Linked DNA regions of Homo sapiens. The protein of the gene in region 5 purifies or fractionates together with the protein of the main gene of each other region. This does not show direct contact. Each region holds a gene or a part of one and is shown on either strand. Other genes may lie near its edges.

Region 1 (3,500 bases), on a different chromosome or scaffold from region 5:
GCCCTCATCAATGGTCAAATGCTACTGTTTTTGAAAGATGAAACAAGCAGAGGGCTTATTTATTTTTTCAAGATCAGAAGAAAAACTTGCCATTTTCTAGTCCCTTTGGCTGGGAAAATATCTTTTTTTCTTTCTTTTTTTTTTTTTTTTTTTTTTTTGAGATGGAGTCTTGCTTTTGTCTCCTAGGCTGGAGTGCAGTGGCTTGATCTTGGCTCACTGCAACCTCTACCTCCCAGGTTTAAGTGATTTTTCTGCCTCAGCCTCCGGAGTAGCTGGGATTACAGGCACCTGCCACCACGCCTGGCTAATTTTTGTATTTTTAGTAGAGACAGGGTTTCTCCATGTTGGCCAGGCTGGTCTCGAACTCTTGACCTCAGGTGGTCCACCCACTTCAGCCTCCCAAAGGGCAGGGATTACAGGCGTGAGCCACTGCTCCTGGCCTCTTTTTTTTTTTTAAAGGAAGGCAAGGTATCAGAGAAATGCCTCATCCCATCTCCTTGTCTGCCAGGACCCAAGACTCCCAGACCTCACCTTGGGCTCCTCATCAAACGGGCTGTACCCTCCCCCTACGCTCACCCACACGGATTGAGGCAAGGGCTGCACTTGGGAGCAAATTGCAAGGTGGGCTGGGGATCAGTGGGCAGTGCTTGCTGGGCAGGTGAGGCAGCGGACCGGAGCCAAGTGAGGCAGACGGTGTTGATTTCATTCCCACACTGCACCCAAGGGAGCTCATCTGCCCACGCTCTCACCAAGAGTGAGATCCATGTAAGATGGAGTTCAAATCTAGATCTCCCGATTCTACCACTGCAACCCAGGGCTCTTTCAGCCACACCGCAAATCACCTGTCCAAGTGCTGGACACATGCACTCTCTGCTTTTGGCAATTGCTGGAAGGAAAGCATTCGAGAACAAACTGCCACATTTGTATTTTCACAGGCCACATCCAATAGGCCAGGAGGGAGGATGCAAACCACTAATTCATCATTTTATTTTATTTATTATTTATTTATTTATTTATTTTGAGACTTCAGAGAAGTCAGCACACAGCAGGCCATGGAAGCAAGTGGAGGACTGGGTTCCTCTCCCTGGGGGAAGAGGGGGAAGATGGCAGCCGTGGTCCCTGGCACCTGCAGAGCCATCCAGCCCTCTTCCCATCCATTCCACGGTTGGCAAACACGGAGTGTGCAGCCCTGCCCATGTGGCCCTCGGCCTGAGGATGCTGCTCCTCCTAGGGCTTAGGTAGCCACTCCTCATTGCTCAGATTTGGCAAACTGAATAAAACCAGCCCCCCACTTCTGGCCTAGCTAAAATCTGCAGTGTCTTTTAGGACGAACCTGATCCCTTATATTAATTTCCCTTATTCTCTTTATTGGCTCAACTAATCTTCTAGGTCTTCTACCCCACTCATTCACACCAACTACTCAACTGTCAATAAACTTAAACTTAAAAAAGACTACTCGAACCAGACTTTTTCTGTAGCTCCCGCAGGGTGCAAGCCTCTCTCAATCCTCCAATCAGCTCCAGTCCTTTGGGCCCCTCACTGGGCTCTGATGAGCCAGGGCTTTGTCATGTATCTCAGTGTTTCATTTACCTTCCATTTGCTGTATGCCCCCGAAACCATCGTGTAATAAACCTTTGTCCCCTACACTGGCAGGCCCTGTCAGGCACCGTGCTGGTCTCTAGCATCCAAAGATCAATACACAAATGTCCACACTCTCTCGGGAGAGAAAAACAAAGCCCATGGAAATCAGGTAAGCACTCAAGGAGAGATTGTCAAAAATGTGATCAGCTATAGGGAGGGAGCAATGGCTCTGCCTGGGGAGGAGGTCGGAGGGCTTCTGGGAGGAGGTGCCATTTGCATTGACTTTGAAGGTTGAATAACTGCTTGCCCAGATGGTGGGACCAGCCCAGTCACACCTGGAGGCAGAGGAGAGCCTGGATGTCTGGGGGTGTGGGAGGATGCTGGCTTGGCTAGAGGGGAGGGAGACAAAGAGGGGTGGGTGGCCAGGTTAGAGCGGGAAGAGTCTTGGAGTTCATGCTAAGACATTTAGACTTTGTCCTGGATGCAGCAGTCAGGAAGTGATAAGGTGAGACTTGTGCTTTAGGGTCATCCCTCTGCAAGCTGAGCTGGGGAGGAGGGACAGTGACAGACTGGGGAAGGGTCTGAGATAGAGGCAGAGCCAATGCAATCTGAAATAGCTGGTCACTTTCCCACCTGGCTCCTGCACTTAGGGGACCTCTACCCTTAGTCCCTCTACCCAGAACTTCCTCCCCAGTTCTAGGCTCCCCAAAACCCCCATGCAGCCTTTCTGGATCTGGGTGGGAGCCTCCTTCTGTTGAACTCCTGAATCCCTTCGCTGGGCCCATCTCTAATGGCTGAGGCCACATTCTCTCACAGTACAGTTACTGGGGACTCTGTCTCCCGCATTAGACACCGAAGGCAGGATTTTCCTTCTTTTTTTATCTTCCTGGCAGTGCCAGATGCATCGCTTTCCATGGGGTTGGATGAGTAAGCAGGTGAGCTCATGGAGGGGCTGGAGAGGCCGAGCCCAGGCCCTTCTCCTCCCTGGCTGTCTTGCCCTGGATGCCCTGTGTGCACTATATCCAGCAGGGCATGGCCAATGTGGTTTCGGACTCACCTCCTGGATCCCCAGTGCCGTAGCAGGACGCAGCACTTATTAACGTGGCATCTGCAGGAGGAGCCTCCCCATCAGGCCAGCCGCCCAGGCACCCCCCTTCACTGATCACTCCAGTGGCCCTTTGTGAGCTACTGGGCCAGATGAAGTGGGAACACAAGTGGCAGATAAGAATGTGACCAGCTGCTCAAGCTCAGAAGAGCGCATGTCCCCTTATGCTATTTACACACCAATTTCAAACCACAGAAACCAAAGATTAGTGCCCAACAGGCAAAAGTCCTTTAAAAAAATCAAAACTGGAGTCAAACATGAGGGCTTCTTCTGTTTCTCCTAAGTTACTGCAGAACAGGCTAGTGTTCACTAAGTGCATGCTAGATGTTAGCTACGATGACTGTTTTTTTCTTTAACTTTCTAATGCCTATGTTAGTGGTAAGTTATGAGAGAACATCACATACCGGGGCCTGTGGGGGTCGGGGGCTAGGGGAGGGATAGCATTAGGAAAAATACCTAATGTAGATGATGGGTTGATGGGTGCAGCAAACCACCATGGCACATGTATACCTATGTAACAAACCTGCACGTTCTGCACATGTACCCCAGAACTTAAAGTATAATAAAAAAATTTAAAAATATATATATATATATTTTTTGTTTTTCAACTTTTATTTTAGATTTGGGGGGTTCATGTGCAAGTTTGTTATGTAGGTATATTGCATGATGCTGAAGCTTGGGGTAATTATCTTCCAACCCCCCAAGCAGCCGTGTCAGCTTGGAGACCCTTGGGAGTCACAGCGAAGAAGGCCTGGATTTCCAGCCCTCCCCACCCCTCTCAAAGGCCTTCCATCATTCCCCACGACCCCTTCTA
Region 2 (4,807 bases), on a different chromosome or scaffold from region 5:
CTGAAAGGAGAACATGATGGTTTATGAGACTTCAATCCAGTCTGGAAGCAGACTCACTGTTCTAGAAGCAAAGGCACAAATGAATAGGATAGAGACTGCTACAATTTGAATGTTTGTCCCCTCCAAAACTCATGTTGAAACTTAATCCCAATGTAACAGCCTTAAGAGGTGGGGCCTTTAAGAGGTGATTGGGCCATGGGGGCTCTACTCTCCTGATGGATTAATGGATTAACAGATTAATGGATTAATAGGTTATCACAGAAGTGGGTGAGTTATCATGTCAGTGAGTCTATCATAAAAACCATTTTGGCTCTCAGTGTGCCCCTTCTTGTCCTGTCATGCCTTCTGCCATGTTATGACACAGCACAAGGCCCTCACCAGAAGCTGACTAGATGCAGCTGCCTGATCTTGGACTTCCTAACCTCTAGAATTGTGAGCAAAATAAACCTCTTTCCTTTATAAATTTCCCAGTCTCAGGTATTCTGTTAAAGCAACAGAAAATGGGCTAAGACAGAGGGGAAAGACAAGAAGATGAAAGAAAGGAAAAAAAAAAAGCACACATAGCACACCTTGCTGATAAATAAGGATGATGATCAAAAACCCTCATGAAATGAGAAGATTGGAAAGAAATCCATAATGTACCTGGAAGTACTAGACCCAATCCGAGATTCACCTGTTCATCAGAACAGGCCTTTTTTGCATATTACTATGTTCCAGGCACTGTTTTGGGGTTATAGCAGTGCTTGTGACAGCAAGGCTTCTGCTTTCAAGGAGTTTCTAGGGACAGGGAGGGAGCCAGATTTTTTTTAATTTTAGTAAAAACAAAAAATAAGAAAACATCAGGAATATTTATTTGAAATAAAACAGTGAGATAAGATAGAGATTGAGCAAGAATTATAATGATGGTCAAGGGATGTCTCTCTGTAAAGGTCAAATTTTCAGGACAGACCTCAAATTGATGAGTGGTGTGTATGCTGAGAGAAGACGCAGACTTGAGACATTCAAAGCAGACAGGACATCAAGAGCAAAGGCCCTGAGGCTTCAGCAAATTTAGTATATTGGATGTAACAGCAGGAGGGCCCATGTGGGTAAGCTGAGGACATCAAGGTGAGAATATCAAGGTGGGTAGGGACCAGATCAGGTAAGATCTTGTGAGCCCTTGTAAGGACCTTTAATTTATGCAAAGAGCAATAGAACATGATATAATATCTAAGAGTGATGAGGATATAAAAGAAACAAGACTAGCCACATACAAGTTGATAATTGTTGGAGACAGTGGTGGGCTCATGATAAAAATCTCCACTTTTAGGCTGGGCACAGTGGCTCACGCCTGTAATCCCAACACTTTGGGAGGCCAAGGCGAGTGGATCACCTGAGGTCGGGAGTTCGAGACCAGCCTGGCCAACATGGCGAAACCCCGTCTCTACTAAAAATACAAAAATTAGCCAGGCGTGGTGGCAGGTGCTTGTAATCCCAGCTACTTGGGAGGGTGAGGCAGGAAAATCACTTGAACCTGGGAGGCAGAGGTTGCAGTGAGCCAAGATCATGCCATTGCACTCCAGCCTGGGCAACAAGAGCAGGACTCCATCTCAAAAAAAAAAAAAAAAAAACTCCACTTTTGTATATCTTTACATTTTCCACTGGATATAGCCTCGACTGTACTCACCAGGTTCTCCACACCCTAAGCCACATGCCAGATTTGTTTAGCAGATTCAGTGGAGCAGGTTCATTCATGGGGGCACCAAACCAAAAGTCCTTTTAAAAACAGTTACCTATGATTTAAAAGTGTGAAGTGATTGTAGTATGATGGGGAAACAGTGGGCCAACTATCATGAGAATTAGGAGATCTGGACAGCTACATGATCTCTTTGATCATATAGTTTTCTTACTTGCTCAGTGCAGCAGTAGTGCCAACCTGTCCTCAGACGGGGATGTAATAATTAAAAGAGGTAGCAGGGGAAAATTCTACAAACCATGGAGGGTTGTGCAAATGTAAGGAATTATTATTTTTTTTTATTTTTATTTATTTATTTTGAGACGGAGTCTCACTCTGTCACCAGGCTGAAGTGCAGTGGCACGATCTCGGCTTACTGCAACCTCTGCCTCCCAGGTTCAAGTGATTCTCCTGCCTCAGTCTCCCGAGTAGCTGGGACTACAGGCATGCGCCACCACACCCAGCTAATTTTTGTATTTTTAGTAGAGATGGGGTTTCACCATGTTGGCCAGGATAGTCTTGATCTCCTGACCTCATGATCCGCCTGCCTCAGCCTCCCAAAGTGCTGGGATTATAGGCATGAGCCACTGTGCCTGGCCAGGAATTGTTATTATCTTGGATGTCTTTCTATTACAATTACCACTACTACTGCAAAAATCCTAATTGCTAATAAAGTATTTTTAGGTTTTTAAAGGATTTCATAGAGTATGATTGCTGGACTGAGCACAGAGGTAATAATTGGTAGAGCAGCAGTTAAGAAGATTGCTCTACCACAGAATTAAAAGAATGTCTTCGCATAGTCCAAGAACTCCAGCTGAATTTTGAAACTCCAAAAGCTCAAGGAACACCAGCTTCACATTTGCCTGCGGGAGGGGTGTGTGCACACATTTTGATTTCCAGCCCTGGAAGTGGAGAATGGTTTATTAAGTGTTTCTCCAGGACATCCCTTCCAAAGGGTTGACAGCATGTTTGAGCAACTACCTTGGAAACACTTAAAACCTACTGAAATGTAGGGGAGTACAATTATTTCTGAACTATGGGCCAGAGTGAGAAAGTTTGCCCAAGTCTCATGATTATGTTCCAGTTCTCTGCTCTTCAAAACACTCTGCTAAGGTGACCACACTTGTTTTTCTCTCTCAGGCCATTCTGTCATTTAGTTGCATAACCTCAGTTCTATTCTTTCAATAATATACATAGTTCACAGTGCCTTCGGGGTAGTTTCCGTATCAAGGTTTTGGTTTCTTCTGATACAAAACACACACACACACACACACACACCCCTTCCAATCCTAGAGGAAAAGAGTATACTAAGTAGAGTTAATAAAGAAGCGTTAGATCCCAGACCATTCAGATTTAGCTGGTGGGACTGTGAGGAGTGTGATCATACAGAAATGAACCTCTCACAGGTGGTTAAGTATGCTGGAGTTGGAGGCACAGCCTGTGTTTGAATATCAGCTCTACCACTTCTTACATGCTGTGTGAGTTTAGACAGGTCACTTAATTAAGCTAAACTTCCTCATTTGTGAAATGGAAATAATAATAGTAACTGCTTTGTGGAACTGATGAGAAGATTACATCTATGAGAAGCACTTAGCACAGTTTCCAGGACAAAGTGAGTGTTCAAAAAATGTTAAGGAGTTACCGTTGTGGTTATAGGTTGGTGGGAAGCAATGTAAATTATTTTATTACAATGTCTCTCACCTGACTTCTCTTTGGCTAACTCAGTGGCTCTCAACTTGGGGTGATTTTCTGCCCCTATGGCAGAAAATGTGCCTTTTTCAGTTGTCACAGCTGGGGAATGTTACTGGCATCCGGTGGGTAAAGGCTAGGGATGCTGCTAGACATTCTACAATGCACAGGACAACCCCCACAACAAAGAATTATCTAGCCCAAAATGTCAACAATGCTGAGGTTGAGAAGCCCTAGAAACTAAAACAGTGTGGGGTTTGTAATTTATTGAAACCATGTAACAACTTTAGTTATTCAAAGACACATTTACCTGGGATATAAAAACTCTAAAATGTACTTCAATTGTGGAAAGAGGCATCAATGATTAACCATAATCATTTCTGATCATGACCAAGTCACCCCTGAGACTAGTAACTGCAGGTGCTCACAAAAAAATATGCAGCTGTCCTTCCTGCCTTCAGGGGATCATTCATGAAAGTAATTTCTCACCTGACCAAAATGATCGCTTAACATTTATTGCATCATTGCCCCTGTTTCTGTAGACTACTCTACCGAAGTTTTAATTTGTCACTAGTTTAAAGGGCCAAAAGATCTGTTTTCTTCAGATATTAGAGACACAAACCAAGCATCTCCCACTTTCTTGGAATTCCTTCTCAAAAATGACTAAAGTCTGAGACTGTTTTCTTATTTAATGTCTATTGAATTCTGTTTTACAGAATTTCAAAAGAGCAGGTTCTTAGCTTACTTTTCAATGGAACATTTTAGCCAGGTAGTATAAGTACAGGTGCGGGTAACCTCAGATAAATCAAGGTGTTATGCAGCTGTCTCTATATTAAAAATATTTGCTGACATCAGTGTAGACTTCATCTTGTAGTTCTTCAGTGTTTTCTTTCCTTATCTTTTGCTCATAAGATGGCTTTGTGTTTGGTTTGATATTATACTGAGAAAGCATATTAGAATCAAAGCACCAAGATTTCAAAAGTCCAGACTACTCTTCCCAAAGAGAAATGTGCAATCACAATAGCATGACATGGGTACAAATATAGAAGTATGTTATTAAAGTATTGAGAATTAGCTTTCCTAACCTCCCCACCTGCAATCTTTTACTCCTAATCTCCAAAAAATGAACAAATCATTGGCTCAAAATGGTCACAAATTGTATGTGGTGTTAAAAATCTATTATTTTTATTGTATATAAAATGTTGCCAGGTGTGGTGGCTCATGCCTGTAATCCCAGCACTTTGGGAGGCCAAGGCAGGTGGATCACTAGGTCAGGAGTTCAAGACCAGCCTGGCCAACATGGTGAAACCCCATCTCTACTAAAAATACAAAGATTAGCTGGGTGTGGTGGCGTGTGCCTGTAATCCCAGCTTCTCGGGAGGCTGAGGCATGAGAATCACTTGA
Region 3 (4,807 bases), about 130 Mb from region 5:
GGGAGGCGGAGGTTGCGGTGAGTGGAGATCACGCCATTGCACTCCAGCCTGGGCAACAAGAGTGAAACTCCGTCTCAAAAAGGAAAAAAAAAAAAGGGAGATTTCAGGATAGTGACTGCAGAACATTAAAGCTCCACGCCGTGACTGCACTGGTCACCTGCCTGGGAAGCCACTATGTCCCCGCTCAGTCCATGTCCACCTTCTATCACCCCGCTTCCCACCTCAGCTCGGCCCCAGCTGTGGGCAGTGGTGTCTGGTGAAGCAAGGTGTGCAGGGGCAGGAGTGAGAAGCCCTGAATTTGGGGACACACCCCTGCTTTAAAACTTGCCCTCCCCCTCTCAAGCCATGATGTGTCTTAATTTGGGTAAGGGGCAGGCAAGCCGCAAGGAGGGACACGGCACTGTTACCCACCAACAACCCCCTGGAACAGGAGGGCCCTCCCGTGGCCACACTTCTGCTTTTCCTGGAAGAGCTTGAAGCAGGCCCCAGGGCTGGCCAGGAGCATCCGGAAGCCCTGCGTGCAGAGAACAGATTCAGCTGAGCCTCCTGCCTTGGCATGGCGCCCTGGAGCTCAGTTCTTGCCCCAGATGCCAGGGAAAGACACGTCATGCACGAAGTTCTTACCTTCCCATCGGGGGCAGGGACAAAGCTCAGAAACTCATCCACATGGCCCACGGCCAACCAGTCCACAAAGAGCTCCACGGGGGGCTGCACCTTCTGGGCATGGAGGAAGTCCCGCACCACCTGGGTGACCCTGCGGCCACTTGACCTGGGACCCACGAGGTTAAAAAAAAAGTTGCTTAACTAAAAAGACTCCATGCAGAAATAAAATGACAAGAGTTTAGCATTCCTGCAATATCTGATTTTTAAAAAACAAAAAAACATGCATTACTTTTATAAACAGGAAAGTAATAAATATGTATATTTCATTTTATTTATTTATTTATTTTTGAGATGGAATCTCACTCTGTCACTCAGGCTGGAGTGCAGTGGCGTGATCTCGCCTCATTGCAACTTCCGCCTCCCAGGTTCAAGGGATTCTCCTGCCTCAGCCTCCCAAGCAACTGGGATTACAGGCGTGCACCACCAGGCCAGGCTAATTTTTCTGTATTTTTACTAGAGATGGGGTTTCACCATGTTGGCCAGGCTGGTCTCGAACTCCTGACCTCAAGTGATCTGCCCGCCTCAGCCTCACAAAGTGCTGGGATTACAGGGATGAGCCACTGCACCCAGCCAGATACGTATATTTTAAAATTCCACTTAGGGTGAGTTCTGCATGAGGCAGACTCAGGACAGGTCAGTCACACCAGGGCAATGACCTACCAGGTCCCACCATCCAGGAAAATCTTCAGAACCACCCTCACACCAGGTTCTTATTCTCCAAGAGACAGATTTCACCCCCATGTTCAATTTTTACGAAAATGTATCTAAGGGCATGGTCCAGCTTCCTCTTTCAATGGGATTATGTATTTGAGGGCAGTAGTCCCTTCCAAAGCTTGACTCTGGATTCATTCATTATTTGATCCCAAGTCTGTTCTAACAGCTTTGTTGCATTTGGTTAGCTCAATGTCTTGGTCTAGTCCACAGCAAGTAACCAATATGATAGGATTCCTTTTCCATCAGCACCCCTGTGTCACTACTGAACAACACATCATTTGTTACTCTCTCTGTATGTTATTGTCATTTCACTTAGCATGTCTTGTACCTCACTTCTCTTGCTCTCAGGAAAAGATCTTATATTAGTCATTTACATGGTAGTATGAACAAGCTTTGACCTAAATGCATTTTCTCCCAGGACTGTTGGGAATGGAAACTTTTTCTTTGTTACTTTTTTTTTTTTTTTTTTTTTTTGAGACGGAGTCTCGCTCTGTCGCCCAGGCTGGAGTGCAGTGGCATGATCTCAGCTCACTGCAAGCTCCACCTCCTGGGTTCATGCCATTCTCCTGCCTCAGCCTCCTGAGTAGCTGGGACTACAGGCGCCTGCCACCACGCCTGGCTAATTTTTTTTTTTTTTTTAGTAGAGACGGAGTTTCACCATGTTAGCCAGGATGGTCTCGATCTCCTGATCTCATGATCCGCCTGCCTTGGCCTCCCAAAGTGCTGGGATTACGGCATGAACCACCATGCCCACTCTTCTTCTGTTACTATTAATTGACTGTTACTAGTATCATCTATTTATTTTCAGAATCAGAAAACTTGAGTCTAGTTATAACTTTGCTTTCTATGTGACTCACTTACCCTCTCTGGGCCCACTTGTAAAATGAAAGTGTTGGACTGAATGATCTCTTAGGTCTCTGCTCTCTCTGGTTTCAGAGTCCCCGAGGTAAGTGTGGACTGTGTCTGGTGAACACCCACCAACCCCAGCACATCCGGGAGTATAATTTCATCATTCCTTGCTTCTGGCTCTCTTCAAGGAGTGCAATGGCCCCTGCTCCACCATCATCACCACCCCCAACCCTCAGCCTCCACCCCAGGAACTCCATTCCCTGTCTCTCTCTCACCCAGGCAGGTTGCCCCCAATGAGGATCCTCCCCAGGGGGTACTCTTTCCCATTGGCCACCACTGGAGGGCTGACCTCCAGGTTCCCAAAGGAGTCCAGGCCACTCACAGACCTGTCGCGTGGTTCCCGAGTCACGTAACCAAAATCTGGACCCTGGAGAGGGAAACCAAGTCAGGCGGGGGTGGAGGGTACCAGGAAGGGCCTGAACCAACTTGCTGGGCTTTGAGCTCCTTCAAGACAGGGTGGGAAAGGCCATCCATTCTTCAGGTGGAAATACAGAGTCATTGGCGGTGGGTGGGGGATCTGACCCAGTCAATATTTCATGCACGCATAGCAGGCAAAGTCGGGAAGTGCTCGGACTCTCTGGCCCTGCTGCCTTATCACGGCAAGACAGCAGGGGGCGCTCCGGTTGCTCCTGCACTCCCCATCGGACATGGAGCCTGAGGCCATGGCCACTCCATCCCCTTACCTACACAGCCTTCCTGCAAGTTCAGCCCAAGGGCAAGTAGCAGCTCAAGTGGCCAATTGTGGGAACCAAGAGGCTGCTGATGGCCCTCTGGGCCTCTGTCTTTGAACTCTAGAGAAGGGGAGACCTCCCCAGGGCTATCTCTCAGAAGCAACTTCGACAACATCAAGGGTCAGGAGAGAGAGCTCCTAGCATCTGTGTGATCAGTGAGGGGGTTGGAGGGGTCTCTTGTTCTTTACGGCACCAGGCAAGTCACTCTTGTTTTCTCAAGAGGTCCTCGTTAGCAATCATCACCTTCCCTGTTATCCTTTTTCTTAAAATAATGATACTAGCTAATAGTGGTGCGCGCACACACACTCCCTCCATGCAGGTACTGTGATGATGAGATGCTTCACAAACCCCTGTGAGGCCAGGGCCAAAATGTCATTTTTACTGATGAGGAAACTGAGGCTCAGAGAGCGGTAGTAACTCACGCAACATCACACAGCATGTAAGTAACGGAACAGGGTTGGTCTGACCCTAAAGCTTGTGCTCTGAACAGGTGCACCATCCTGCCTCCCCTATTTAGGGCTGCCAGATTCAGTAAATAAAAATACAGGATGCCCAATTAACTTTGAATTTTAGATAAACGACAACTTTTTTAGTGTAAGTATATCCCATGCAATATTTGGGACGTACTTACACCAAAAAGTTAACCTGTTGCTTGTCTGAAATTCACATTTGACTGGGCATCCCTGCATTTTATCTGGCAACCCTACCCTCATCCCTAAAGAGCACGGTTCCCACTGCTGCCCTCTGTACCCCACACCCCGGTGTGGCCCCTGGGGTAAGGCCTCTCAGCTCTCAGGGGTGGGCTGCGGCCGGGACCACTCACCAGGATTCTTTTGTAAGGGAAATCCTGCAGTTCCCCATTCCTTGGGGAGTCAAAGACCACCGGGAGGGTCTTGTGCGGCGCCTGAACGTAGCCCAGCTCCATCTCATCCTGCAAGTGAGGAGAGGCGAGAGACGCACAGCTGTGACAGTCAACAGCTGCCCCTGCTGGCTCGGCTCTGAGCCCTGTGGGGCAGACTGCTCACCAAGTCCCCTGGCCCAAGCATGTTTTGTGCTTGGAGGCGGACAGGACCGAGGTCAGGGTGCCTGCTGACTGGAGGAGGGGCTGGAGGCTCAAGGAGGGGGTGCACTTGTCTAAGGTCACACAGCAAGACAGAGGCCGGAGGTGAACGAGAACATGGACATGACCTTGGGGGTGTCCCTGTGAGTACTGGGCCAAGGCAGGTGGACACAGAGAAGCACTCACAGTGGCCTGAGTTGGATCCATAAATGTGCCCAGGTCAGTCCTGACCCCTCTGGTTCTGGAGGAAAAGATGGCCCAGTGTGAATGAACTTCACATCCAGGTCCTGCCCTAAACTCTTTATAAACATTAACTCCATTCATCCTCATGACATGCCTGGGCGTGGGCACCATAATTATCCCATGTGACAGATGAGGAAAATGAGGAACTAAGAGGTCTAATTATTTATCCAGTCCGGGCACGGTGGCTCACACCTATAATCCCAGCACTTTGGGAGGGTGAGGCGGGAGGATTGCTTGAGGCCAGGAGTTTGAGACAACCCTGGGCAACATGGCAAGACCCCATCTCTACAAAAAATTAGCTGAGCCTGGTGGCTGCACCTGTGGTCTCAGCTACTCGGGAGACTGAGGCAGAAGGATCACTTGAACCCAGGAGTTCCAGGCTGCCAGTGAGCTGTGATCATGCCATGGCACTCCAACCAGGGTGACAGAGAGACACTGTCTCCAAAAAGAAAAATAAATTCAAAATATATTAATTTAAAAAAATAAA
Region 4 (5,586 bases), on a different chromosome or scaffold from region 5:
GGTGCAGGGGCTCACCCCTGTAATCTCAACACTTTGGTGGGAGGCTGAGGCGGACAAGTCACTTGAGCTCAGGAGTTCGAGACCAGCCTAGGCAACATGGAAAAACCCAGTCTCTACAAATGTACCCCCTCCAAAAAAAAAAAAAAAGCCCGGTCCTGTGGTGTGTGCCTGTAGTCCTGGCTGCTCAGGAGGCTGAGGTGGGACGATCACTTGTGCTCAGGTGGTCAAGGCTGCAGTGAGTGCAGTGAGAGGTGATGGTAACAGTGTACTCCTACCTGAGTGACAGAGTGAGACCCTGTCTCAAACAAAACAAGACAAAAAACTGCTACAATATAAGCAACAATATAGATGATTTTCACCGACTAATATTGAGCAAAGCAAACCAGAAACAGAGTACATATTGTGATTTTCCACTAAAATGAAATTCCAGAAAAGGTCAAATTAATCTCCAGCAAAAGAGGATGAAATAATGGTTAACTTTTACAGGTGGGAGGGGTAATGTACTGGAAGAGGACAGTAGGGAGATTTTTAAAGTTTTGAAAGTATTCTATATTTTTATAATCATATATATTTACCTATTATTATTATTTGAGACATAGTCTCATCCTGTTGCTCAGGCTGGAGTGCAGTGGCGCCATCTCGGCTCACTGCAACCTCTGCCTCCTGGGTTCAAGCGATTCTCATGTCTCGGCCTCCCGAGTACCTGGGATTACAGGCGCACCTCCACCACCACGCCCAGCTAATTTTTTTTTTGTATTTTTAGTAGAGAAGGGGTTTCACCATGTTGGCCAGGCTGGTCTCAAACTCCTGACTTCAAGTGATCTGCCTGCCTCGGCTTCCCAAAGTGCTGGGATTACAGGCGTGAGCCACCGCTCCTGGCCTATAATCATACATTTAAAAGCCACATACGGAAGAATTTTCTAGGACAATGTCAACTCTCCATTAAAAAACTTTTCACACCCCAACCACATAAATATGTAAAAATTTGAGTTTTACCCTTATGATTTGTGCATTTTACTGTCTATAAATTACATCTTGATAAAAATGTAAATAAAAACAAATAAAAATGAATGTTCCTTGAATGAGTGAATAAACGAATGAATGAGTTGTGTTTTCAAAGAGGAAAATAAAGACATTACCGTGAAAGAGGATCTTGTACTGCATTGAATTTTTAAGTAGTGCTTAGTTCTTGCACTTTCTTTGCTCTAATGATGCCCAAAATAATTGTTCGTTTACTTACTTTGCTTAAGTATTAATTTCCTTTGCTATTTAGCCACGACTGTGAAGTTAAGACAAGAAAGTCATCAACAGTAATGCAGATGATGTAAATACCTTGTGGGACTGGCATTTAATTTACTGCGAGGGATCTATTAAGCTCTTGGGGAATTGGGGAATATGCCTAATTCCCTTCTGGCGTTTTTAATTTTTTTAATCCTTTTGTGTTTTATGAGATGTGAGTACAAATTAATTATTCAGACTCTTGAGAGAGGAGACGAGTTGGCGGAGTTGCCACCCGTGTTCACGAACAGGAACAGAAGCCACCAGCACATGACATTGCCCAAGCCACCCAGAGATCAGAGTGGAAGAGTCCTAATTGCTGGGCGGCCCAGCCCCGGGATGTGCCTCTCCCATCCTTCTCCAGGCGGGGCTCGTGGCTAAGCAGCGACTCACCCTGCCAGCCTGTCACAGGCCAAGAGCGGCCAACAACTCCGCAGGCGACAATGGCCGCTGCACCCCAGGCGCTGTGGAAGCCCGACCCGGCTCTGGGTCCCATCTTAGAGCCTGGGATGCAGTGTCGGGAGTCGCGGTGCCCAGAGCATCCAGTAGGTGTCGCTGTCCCACGGCCGCCGCGCGCCCCCGGGGTGGGGAGCCGGGGCGTGTCTGCCTCACCTGGGGCTCCCGGCGCGAGCGCCTCACCTGGGCTAGCGCCCCTTGCCGCCCGCGCCGCGCGGGGGCGCTCTTCCGCGGCTGGGTCCCCGCCTCCGCCCCAACAGCTCGGGCTGCAGTGCTGCTCGCGCTGCGCTGGGTGCTGGTTCTGCAACCCGCGGCCGTCCCCCCGCATCCGCGACGAGGGGGCGGGGTCCCACGGCGCGCTGAGAAAGGCGGGCGAGCTGGCGCTCAGGTGTGTTCTTCCATAGGGCCCGGGCGGCAGAGAGGACCGCGTCCCGGCAGTCGGAGCGGGAGGAGGACAAGACGATGCCGCTGTCCCCGCCAGCCCAGGGCGACCCCGGGGAGCCCAGCCCGTGCAGGCCCCCTAAGAAGCACACCACCTTCCACCTCTGGCGCTCCAAAAAGAAGCAGCAGCCGGCGCCGCCTGACTGTGGGGTGTTCGTTCCGCACCCGCTCCCGGCGCCTGCCGGAGAGGCCAGGTGAGCTCCTCGCCCGAGCCCTCCAGTCCCACCTCCTCCTCCTCCTCCTTCTCCTGCTGCGCTAGCCCTTGGACTCCTGACCCCACTTGGAGGAGGGGAAAGCCCCGGGGTCTGTTTCAGTCCGCAGGAGGGTACCCGGGTCCGGAGGGGAGCGATCGTAGCCGCTGGGGTTGACGAGGTTCCTCGCGGCTTTTGGTTCAGACCAAGCACCGGCGAGAGGAACTTGTGCCCACGCATGTGGCCTTTAGTATGACTGCAAAGTTTTCATGCAGGAGCCTCCCGCATCAGCCTGCTAACCAGAGCGGCGGGGAGTGAGGGTTGTTACCGTCCTAAATGATGGCGGGAACTCTGCTTTGGGGTTAGGCACTGCTTTTGAGCTAGTGTCTTTATTGTAAAGCTCTTTATTGTGAATATCTGTAAGATCTGTGCTCTTACAGATGTTATACCCCCATTCTCCTCGCAACATACGAAGGGAGGAGGAAGTGGCAGGAATGGTTACCCCCATTTCATGGGTGGAGGAACTGAGACCAAAGGATAAATGGCTTCTCCCCATTGGAGCCAGTGGCAGAGCTAGAGAGCACCTAGTTATCAAAACTGTAGTTACCATTGTGCTTTTTGATTTTTATCATGGTTTTGAAGTGGTTTTATTCTATATGTATAATTATTCAACTATAGCATCAGAGTTTATGCATTCGTTGAATAATAATCAATTTGAAGTAACAGCGTATTTACATGGCTCAGAGGTGTGAAATATTTATAGTGATGGACAATTGACAATGTCCAGTAAATCCTTCCAAATGTGTTTTTAAAATACACCCTATGAGGGCCAGAATAAAATTGTGCAAAATTTGCATTTTAGACATGGTTTTCCTTTTATTTCTTTCTTTCTTTTTTTTTTTTTTTTTCTGAGACGGAGTCTTGCTCTGTCACCCAGGCTGGAGTGCACTGGCCCAATCCCGGCTCACTGCAAGCTCCACCTCCCGGGTTCACGCCATTCTCCTGCCTCAGCCCCCGAGTAGCTGGGACCACAGGCGCCCGCCACCACGCCCGGCTAATTTTTTGTATTTTTAGTAGAAACGGGGTTTCACCGTGTTAGACAGGATGGTCTCGATCTCCTGACCTCATGATCCGCCCGCCTCGGCCTCCCAAAGTGCTGGGATTACAGGCATGAGCCACCGCGCCCGGCCTCTCCTTTTATTTGTAAAAAAAGTCAATTTTACGATCTATTTTCATTCACTTATTGTATTGAGTACCTTAGCTAAGTGCCATGTACTGCGATATAAAAAACAATGAGAGACAGGAATAATTGTGTCATCAAAGAATTGTTAGTCTCTTGTGGATACCAAAAAATGCAATGATAGATGCCAGCACACAGGAGGGGATCAGGGAGGCTTCCTGGAGGAGGATAGGTGAAGTGGCTTAGGCAGAAACAGGGAGGAGCAGCGAGTTCCAGGCAGGGGCTGCACTGTGCACATCACCAGCACTTAGAAGAGCGTGGCACTTCCTGAGAAGCGCAAGTGGTTGCAGCGGGGAGGTCTAGGTGTGAGTGGGTAAGGGTAGGAAACCTAAGAAAGAAGTCATTTTATTTTTCTCTCATATTTTATCATCCACATTGGTAATCAGTTGTAGTAGAAATATATTACCTATTCAAACGTTTACTGTGCCTAATTATAGATTATACTTTCTAACAAAATACAGTATTTAATGTACCCAACATTGAAGTTCTTTTCTATTACCTCAGTAAATATTTTAAACATTTCCATCGTGGTTTTCCTTTTAAGATCTAGTCTTATCATTTACTGTCTATCAAAACATAATAATACACAGCTATAGGTAATTTATTCAAATGTAAATACATTTTAGTATAAAATTTAAAATAGGAGGCCGGGCGCGGTGGCTCACGCCTGTAATCCCAGCACTTTGGGAGGCCGAGACGGGCGGATCACGAGGTCAGGAGATCGAGACCATCCTGGCTAACACGGTGAAACCCCGTCTCTACTAAAAATACAAAAATTAGCCGGGCATGGTGGCGCGCGCCTGTAGTCCCAGCTACACGGGAGGCTGAGGCAGGAGAATGGCGTGAACCCGGGAGGCGGAGCTTGCAGTGAGTCGAGATCGCGCCACTGCACTCCAGCCTGGGCGACAGAGCGAAACTCCGTCTCAAAAAAAAAAAAAAAAAAAAAAAATTAAAATAGGAGATTTGCTTCTCTCCTTGAGTTTTTTTATATTTTAGTGCAGTCTTGAAACACTTCATTTTTTCCTTCAGAACCGTGATGAACTTCGTATTAATAAATGTTCTGAAAAACTAAACGTACTAGTCTGTCTTTGGGATGTTTTTCTAGTTAGATCATCTTTATAAATATTTCATTTACTTCTAAGAGAGTGTACTTCTTTCTGGTTTAAAGAGAGTGGCAAAAGCACCCTTAGATTTCAAGCCAGTTTGCCCAGTGTGGCTCTCTTAAGCCTCCTGACCATATCCCTTCATTTCTGTCCAGGACTTGGAAGTGATGGAATTTGGCTGGAATGTGCAGCACTCACTGTGGTTTTTGTCTCTAAATAAGGAGGGGACAGTCAGGTAGCCACCCATATTTGCTTATTTGATTAATATTATGGGTGTTTAGGTCAGAAAAAAATGAATTTATCTACTAGCTTTGTGACCTTGGGCAAGTTATTTCACCTCTTAAAATCTCAATTTCCTCATCTGTAATATGGAGACAATAGGATGCTGACTCTGTAGGGTTGTCATGAATATTAAATGAAAGTTTATGTTATTAAGTGCAAAAACCTTAACACACTTCTGAGCACAAAGTAGAAACTCAGTAAATGCAAAAGCATCCTGGTCATCATCATCATCATCATCATCATCAAAGCAAAGGTCTAATGGAAGAAATGGAAAAGATAGGTTTGGATAGGGGAAAACCAACTCTAGGAAGATCTTTTCCTAGAAAAGTTTACCAGTCCAGCCGGGTGCGGTCACTCACGCCTCTAATCCCAGTACTTTGGGAGGCCAAAGCAGGTGGATCACCTGAGGTCAGGAGTTTGAGACCAGCTTGGCCAACATAGTGAAACCTCATCTTTACTAAAAGTACAAAAAAATTAGCTGGGCATGGTGGCTCACACCTGTAATCCCAGCTACTCAGGAGGCTGAGACAGGAGAATCCCTTGAACCCAGGAGATGAAGGTTGTGGTGAGCCAAGATCATGCCATCGCACTCTAG
Region 5 (4,807 bases):
TCTACTTCATTTTAACTTTTATGCATCATTAGTTTTGTATTGTCATAAAGATTGCCAATTGCTCCCCAGTATCCATTCTTCTCTTCTTCCAACGCTTGTTACTCTAAAGTTACAGAATTGGGCAAGAGTCACTCATTAACTGAATACTCTCATTGTTGTACAAGTATTCTTTTTTCTTGCTCTGTCACCCAGAGTGGAATGCAGTGGCGTGAATTCAGCTCACTGCAACCTCCGCCTCCCAGGTTCAAGCAAGTCTCCTGCCTCAGCCTCCCAAGCAGCTGGGACTATAGCATGTGCCAAACGCCCAGCTAATTTTTTTATTTTTAGTACAGGTGGGGTTTTACCATGTTGGCCAGGCTGGTCTCAAACTCCTGACCTCAAGTGATCTGCTCGCTTCAGCATATATATATATGGTTTGTTTGTTTAGATGGAGTCTCACTCTGTTACCCAGGCTGGGGTGCAGTGGTGCGATCTCAGGTCACTGTAACCTCTGCCTCCCAGGTTCAAGCAATTCTCCTATCTCAGCCTCCCAAGTAGCTGGAAATACAGGTGCACACCACCACACCTAGCTAATTTTGTATATTTAGTAGAGACGGGGTTTCACCATGTTGGTCAGTCTGGTCTCGAACTCCTGACCTCGGGTGATTCACCTGCCTTGGCCTCCCAAAGTGCTGGGATTACAGGCATGAGCCACCATGCCTGGCCTAATTATAATACTTAATCGTATACCTGGCATTGCATATGGCCCTAGGATCTTCACCAGGAACATTAATTTTTACTACAGATTGGTGGAAATTTGTCCTGAATCAGCCATTGCTGATTTTCTGAAGGTTGTTTTTCTGAATAAATATTCTTCACAATTTATGTTTTCATATATCTACATATCTCTCATAAAAGAATAATACAGGCTGGACACGGTGGCTCACGCCTGTAATCCCAGCACTTTGGAAGACTGAGGCTGGTGGATCACCTGAGGCCAGGAGTTTGAGACCAGCCTGGTCAACATGGTGAAACCCTGTCTCTACTAAAAATACAAAAATTAGCCGGGCGTGGTGGCGGGCGCCTGTAATCTCAGCTACTCAGGAGGCTGAGGCAGGAGAATTGCTGGAACCCAGGAGGCAGAGGTTGCAGTGAGCCAAGATCGCGCCATTGCACTCCAGCCTGGGTGACAGAGCAAGCCTCCATCTTAAAAAAGAAAAAAAAAAAAGTTTGCCACCAGCGTGGCCAACGTGGTGAAACCCTGTTTCTACTAAAAACAAAAAAATTAGCCGGATGTGGTGGCGGGCAACTATAGTTCCAGCTACTTGGGAGGGTGAGGCAGGAGAATTGCTTGAACCCAGGAGGTGGAGGTTGCAGTGAGCCAAGATCGTGCCACTGCACTCCAGCCTAGCGACAGAGTGAGACTCCATCTCAAAGGAAAAAAAAAGAAGAAGAAGAAGGCCGGGCACCTTGGCTCAGGCCTGTAATCCCAGCACTTTGGGAGGCTGAGGCGTGTGGATCACGAGATCAGGAGTTAAGGACCAGCCTGACCAACATGGTGAAACTCCGTCTCTACTAAAAACACAAAAATTAGCCAGGCATGGTGGTGAGCGCCTGTAATCCCAGCTACTCGGGAGGCTGAGGCAGAAGAATCGCTTGAACTCGGGAGGCGGAGGTTGCAATGAGCCGAGATCGCGCCACTGCACTCCAGCCTGGTCGACAGAGTGAGACTCGATCTAAAAAAATAAAAATAAAAATAAATAAAAAGAATAATACAGATGTATCATGATTTTTTCCTTATTTATTTATTTTATATTTGTTTATTTATTTATTATTATTATTTTTTTTTTAGAGATGGAGCATCACTCTGTTGCCCAGGCTGGAGTGCAGTGGCGCGATCTCGGCTCACTGCAAGCTCCGCCTCCTGGGTTCAAGCCATTCTCCTGCCTTAGCCTCCAGCGTAGCTGGGACTACAGGCGCCCGCTACCACGCCTGGCTAATTTCTGTATTTTCAGTAGAGACAGGGTTTTACCTTGTTAGCCAGGATGGTCTCGATCTCCTGACCTCGTGATCCGCCCGCCTTGGCCTCCCAAAGTGCTGAGATTACAGGCATGAGCCACCGCGCCTGGCCTGTTTATTTATTTTTTTTGAGGCAGGTCTCACTTTGTCACCCAGACTGGAGCGCAGTGGCGTCACCTCGGCTGACCGCAACCTCTGCTTCCCAGGCTCGAGATTCTCCTGCTTCAGCCTCCCAAGTAGCTGAGATTACAGGCGCTCACCACTACCCCCTGGCTAATTTTTGTATTTTTAGTAGAGATGGGGTTTCACCATGTTGGCCAGGCTGGTCTTGAACTCCTGGCCTCAAATAATCCACCCGCCTCAGCCTACCAAAGTCCTGGGATTACAGGCATGCGCCACAGCGCCCAGCCCGAGTTTTTCCTTTTTAGAAACAATTCAGAATTAGCCAGATATGGTGGCCTACGCCTGTAATCCCAGCTACTTAAGACACAGAGGCCAGAGAATCACTTGAACCCAGAAGGTGAAGGCTGCAGTGAGCTGAGATCACGCCACTGCACTCCAGCCTAGGCAACAGAGCCAGACTCTATCTCAAAAAAAAAATTTTTTTTTTCAGAAAAATGGGCCTATGTTATTTTCTGACTACCACTTCTTTTTTTCTTTTTTTGAGACAGGGTCTTGCTCTGTTACCCAGGCTGAAGTGCAGTGGAGTAATCACAGCTCACTGTAACTTCTAATTCATGGGCTCAAGCAATCCTCCCACCACATCCTCCTGAGTAGTTGGGACTAGAGGCAGGTGCCACCATGCCTGGCAAATTTTCTTCTTATTTTTGTAGAGACGAGTTCTTGCTATGTCGCCTAAGTTGGTCTTGAACTCCTGACCTCAAGCGATCCTCCCACCTTAGCTTCCCAAAGTGCTAGGATTACAGGTGTGAGCCACCATGCTTGGCCCCTGACTACTACTTCTAAGATAAATCTTTTATCTACACTCAAGAGTGTGGGTCTTGTAATCCAAATACACTACAAAATCATCTACTGCTGGGATAGTTTGTATTTATGACAGGAATTTGGACAGATAAGTACAACTCTTCAAATGAATCTTAGTGTTGACTCATTATAATCATACAGGCTTTATTGGGCAAGTATAATAATCTACTGTCAAGATAGAAATCTCTAGATGACAGAACAATTGCTTATATTTACTAACTTTTGGGCAATCATCAACATGGCATGATGGCTTCTCAACCAGTCTACAGAAAGCTATTCCATCTGCCAAAATGATAACTACTTTTTTAGTCTGACTGTGTCACCCAGGCTGGAGTGCAGTGGCGTGATCTTGGTTCACTACAACCTCCGCCTCCCAGGTTCAAGCAATTCTCCTGCCTCAGACTCCCAAGTAGCTGGAATTACAGGTGCCTGCCACCATGCCTGGCTAATTTTTGTATTTTTAGTAGAGACAGGGTTTCACCACGTTGGCCAGGCTGGTCTCGAACTCCTGACCTCAAGTGATCCATCCACCTTGGCCTCCCAAAGTGCTGGGATTATAGGCGTGAGCCACTGCGCCCTTCCTGAACTTTTTATTTATAGATTTTGGGGGACAGTTCTACTAATAGGAGACCTAATTCAATCAACAGAATAACTGGATTCTATTGGTGGAAGCACTCAAGCCACAGTCAGCAGTTTAAGTACGGATAATATGGGCTGGGCGCAGTGGCTCACGCCTGTAATCCTAGCACTTCGGGAGGCCGAGACAGGTTGATGACCTGAGGTCAGGAGTTTGAGACCAGCCTGACCAACATGGTGAAACCGCATCTGCTAAAAATACAAAAAATTAGGATAATGTGGTGGCGGGCGCCTGTAATCCCAGCTATTTGGGAGGCTGAGGCAGGAAAATCGCTTGAATCCAGGAGGCGGAGGTTGCCATGAGCCGAGATTGTGCCACTGCACTCCAGCCTCCAGCCTGGGCAACAAGAGTGAAACTCCATCTCAAAAAAAAAAAAAAAAGTATGGATAATGTGGAACAAAATCTGACCAGCGTGGAGAAAGGGGGCCTTGGGTGCTAAGAGCACTTATCGTATAGCTGACAAGGATGGTCAATATCTTACATCGTGAAGTGTTGTGTAGGGAGACTGTATAACTTACTAGCTACGTGACCTCAAGCAAGGTACTTAACTTCTCTGGGCTTCAGTTTTTTCATCTATAAGATACGGATGGATATGGTTGTGAGGATTAATTGAAATATGTGTGCCCTGCTCAGGATAGGCTGTGGCACACAATCAGCACCTGCAAAATGCCAGCCCTTGTCATTATTCTTGCTAGTGTTATCACCATCACTCTGGCAACAACTAAGCCTGCACAAGGCACTGTCTTACAGAGCAGATTCATATCTCTATTTGGCCACCTAGACATTAACAAGGCCAAAATGTTAGTTTCAGGGCCCCTGGGAGCCAACTAAGTTAGTTCTCACCACAGCTCATTCCTCCACCCCTGTGTAAGCCCTGGTGTGTAAGCCCTGGGAAGGAGAGCGGCTTGAGGTTTAGACGGTGTATATAGGATGGTTACATAAGCAGCAAGCTGAGACTTCCTCTCTCCTCCCCAGTTTCTGTTCTGGGGAGGGAAAGGAGTGCCCCTCTCACCTGGAGGGCTTGATGAAGTTTGTCAGCAAAGTACAGCGGTGTGTTCTTGATCACCGAAGCTGGAAACAAAGATGGAAGGATGGAGGTTCACAACTAGGACCACAATCTCCCATCCCAAGAGAGACTTACTTCACAAATCCTGAGCAGGCCCCTACCTAGGCCGAGCAGAGCCACCT

The links.
Region 1: the proteins of ANXA9 (region 5) and CLMN purify together in Homo sapiens (affinity purification with mass spectrometry; one large-scale study listed by BioGRID and IntAct). This does not show direct contact.
Region 2: the proteins of ANXA9 (region 5) and ACP3 purify together in Homo sapiens (affinity purification with mass spectrometry; one large-scale study listed by BioGRID and IntAct). This does not show direct contact.
Region 3: the proteins of ANXA9 (region 5) and PADI3 purify together in Homo sapiens (affinity purification with mass spectrometry; one large-scale study listed by BioGRID and IntAct). This does not show direct contact.
Region 4: the proteins of ANXA9 (region 5) and CRYBG1 purify together in Homo sapiens (affinity purification with mass spectrometry; one large-scale study listed by BioGRID and IntAct). This does not show direct contact.

What each region holds. Positions count from the first base shown.
Region 1 is NC_000014.9:95,197,909-95,201,408, forward strand, and holds part of CLMN (calmin), read right to left. Parts: intron 1-3,500.
Region 2 is NC_000003.12:132,322,628-132,327,434, forward strand, and holds part of ACP3 (prostatic acid phosphatase isoform PAP precursor), read left to right. Parts: intron 1-4,807. UniProt on the Homo sapiens protein: A non-specific tyrosine phosphatase that dephosphorylates a diverse number of substrates under acidic conditions (pH 4-6) including alkyl, aryl, and acyl orthophosphate monoesters and phosphorylated proteins.
Region 3 is NC_000001.11:17,272,481-17,277,287, reverse strand, and holds part of PADI3 (protein-arginine deiminase type-3), read right to left. Parts: intron 3,949-4,807; coding exon 3,841-3,948; intron 2,654-3,840; coding exon 2,502-2,653; intron 770-2,501; coding exon 625-769; intron 515-624; coding exon 412-514; intron 1-411. UniProt on the Homo sapiens protein: Catalyzes the deimination of arginine residues of proteins.
Region 4 is NC_000006.12:106,358,713-106,364,298, forward strand, and holds the start of CRYBG1 (beta/gamma crystallin domain-containing protein 1), read left to right. Parts: upstream 1-2,004; 5' UTR 2,005-2,196; coding exon 2,197-2,369; intron 2,370-5,586. UniProt on the Homo sapiens protein: May function as suppressor of malignant melanoma. It may exert its effects through interactions with the cytoskeleton.
Region 5 is NC_000001.11:150,988,166-150,992,972, reverse strand, and holds part of ANXA9 (annexin A9), read right to left. Parts: coding exon 4,787-4,807; intron 4,691-4,786; coding exon 4,632-4,690; intron 1-4,631. UniProt on the Homo sapiens protein: Low affinity receptor for acetylcholine known to be targeted by disease-causing pemphigus vulgaris antibodies in keratinocytes.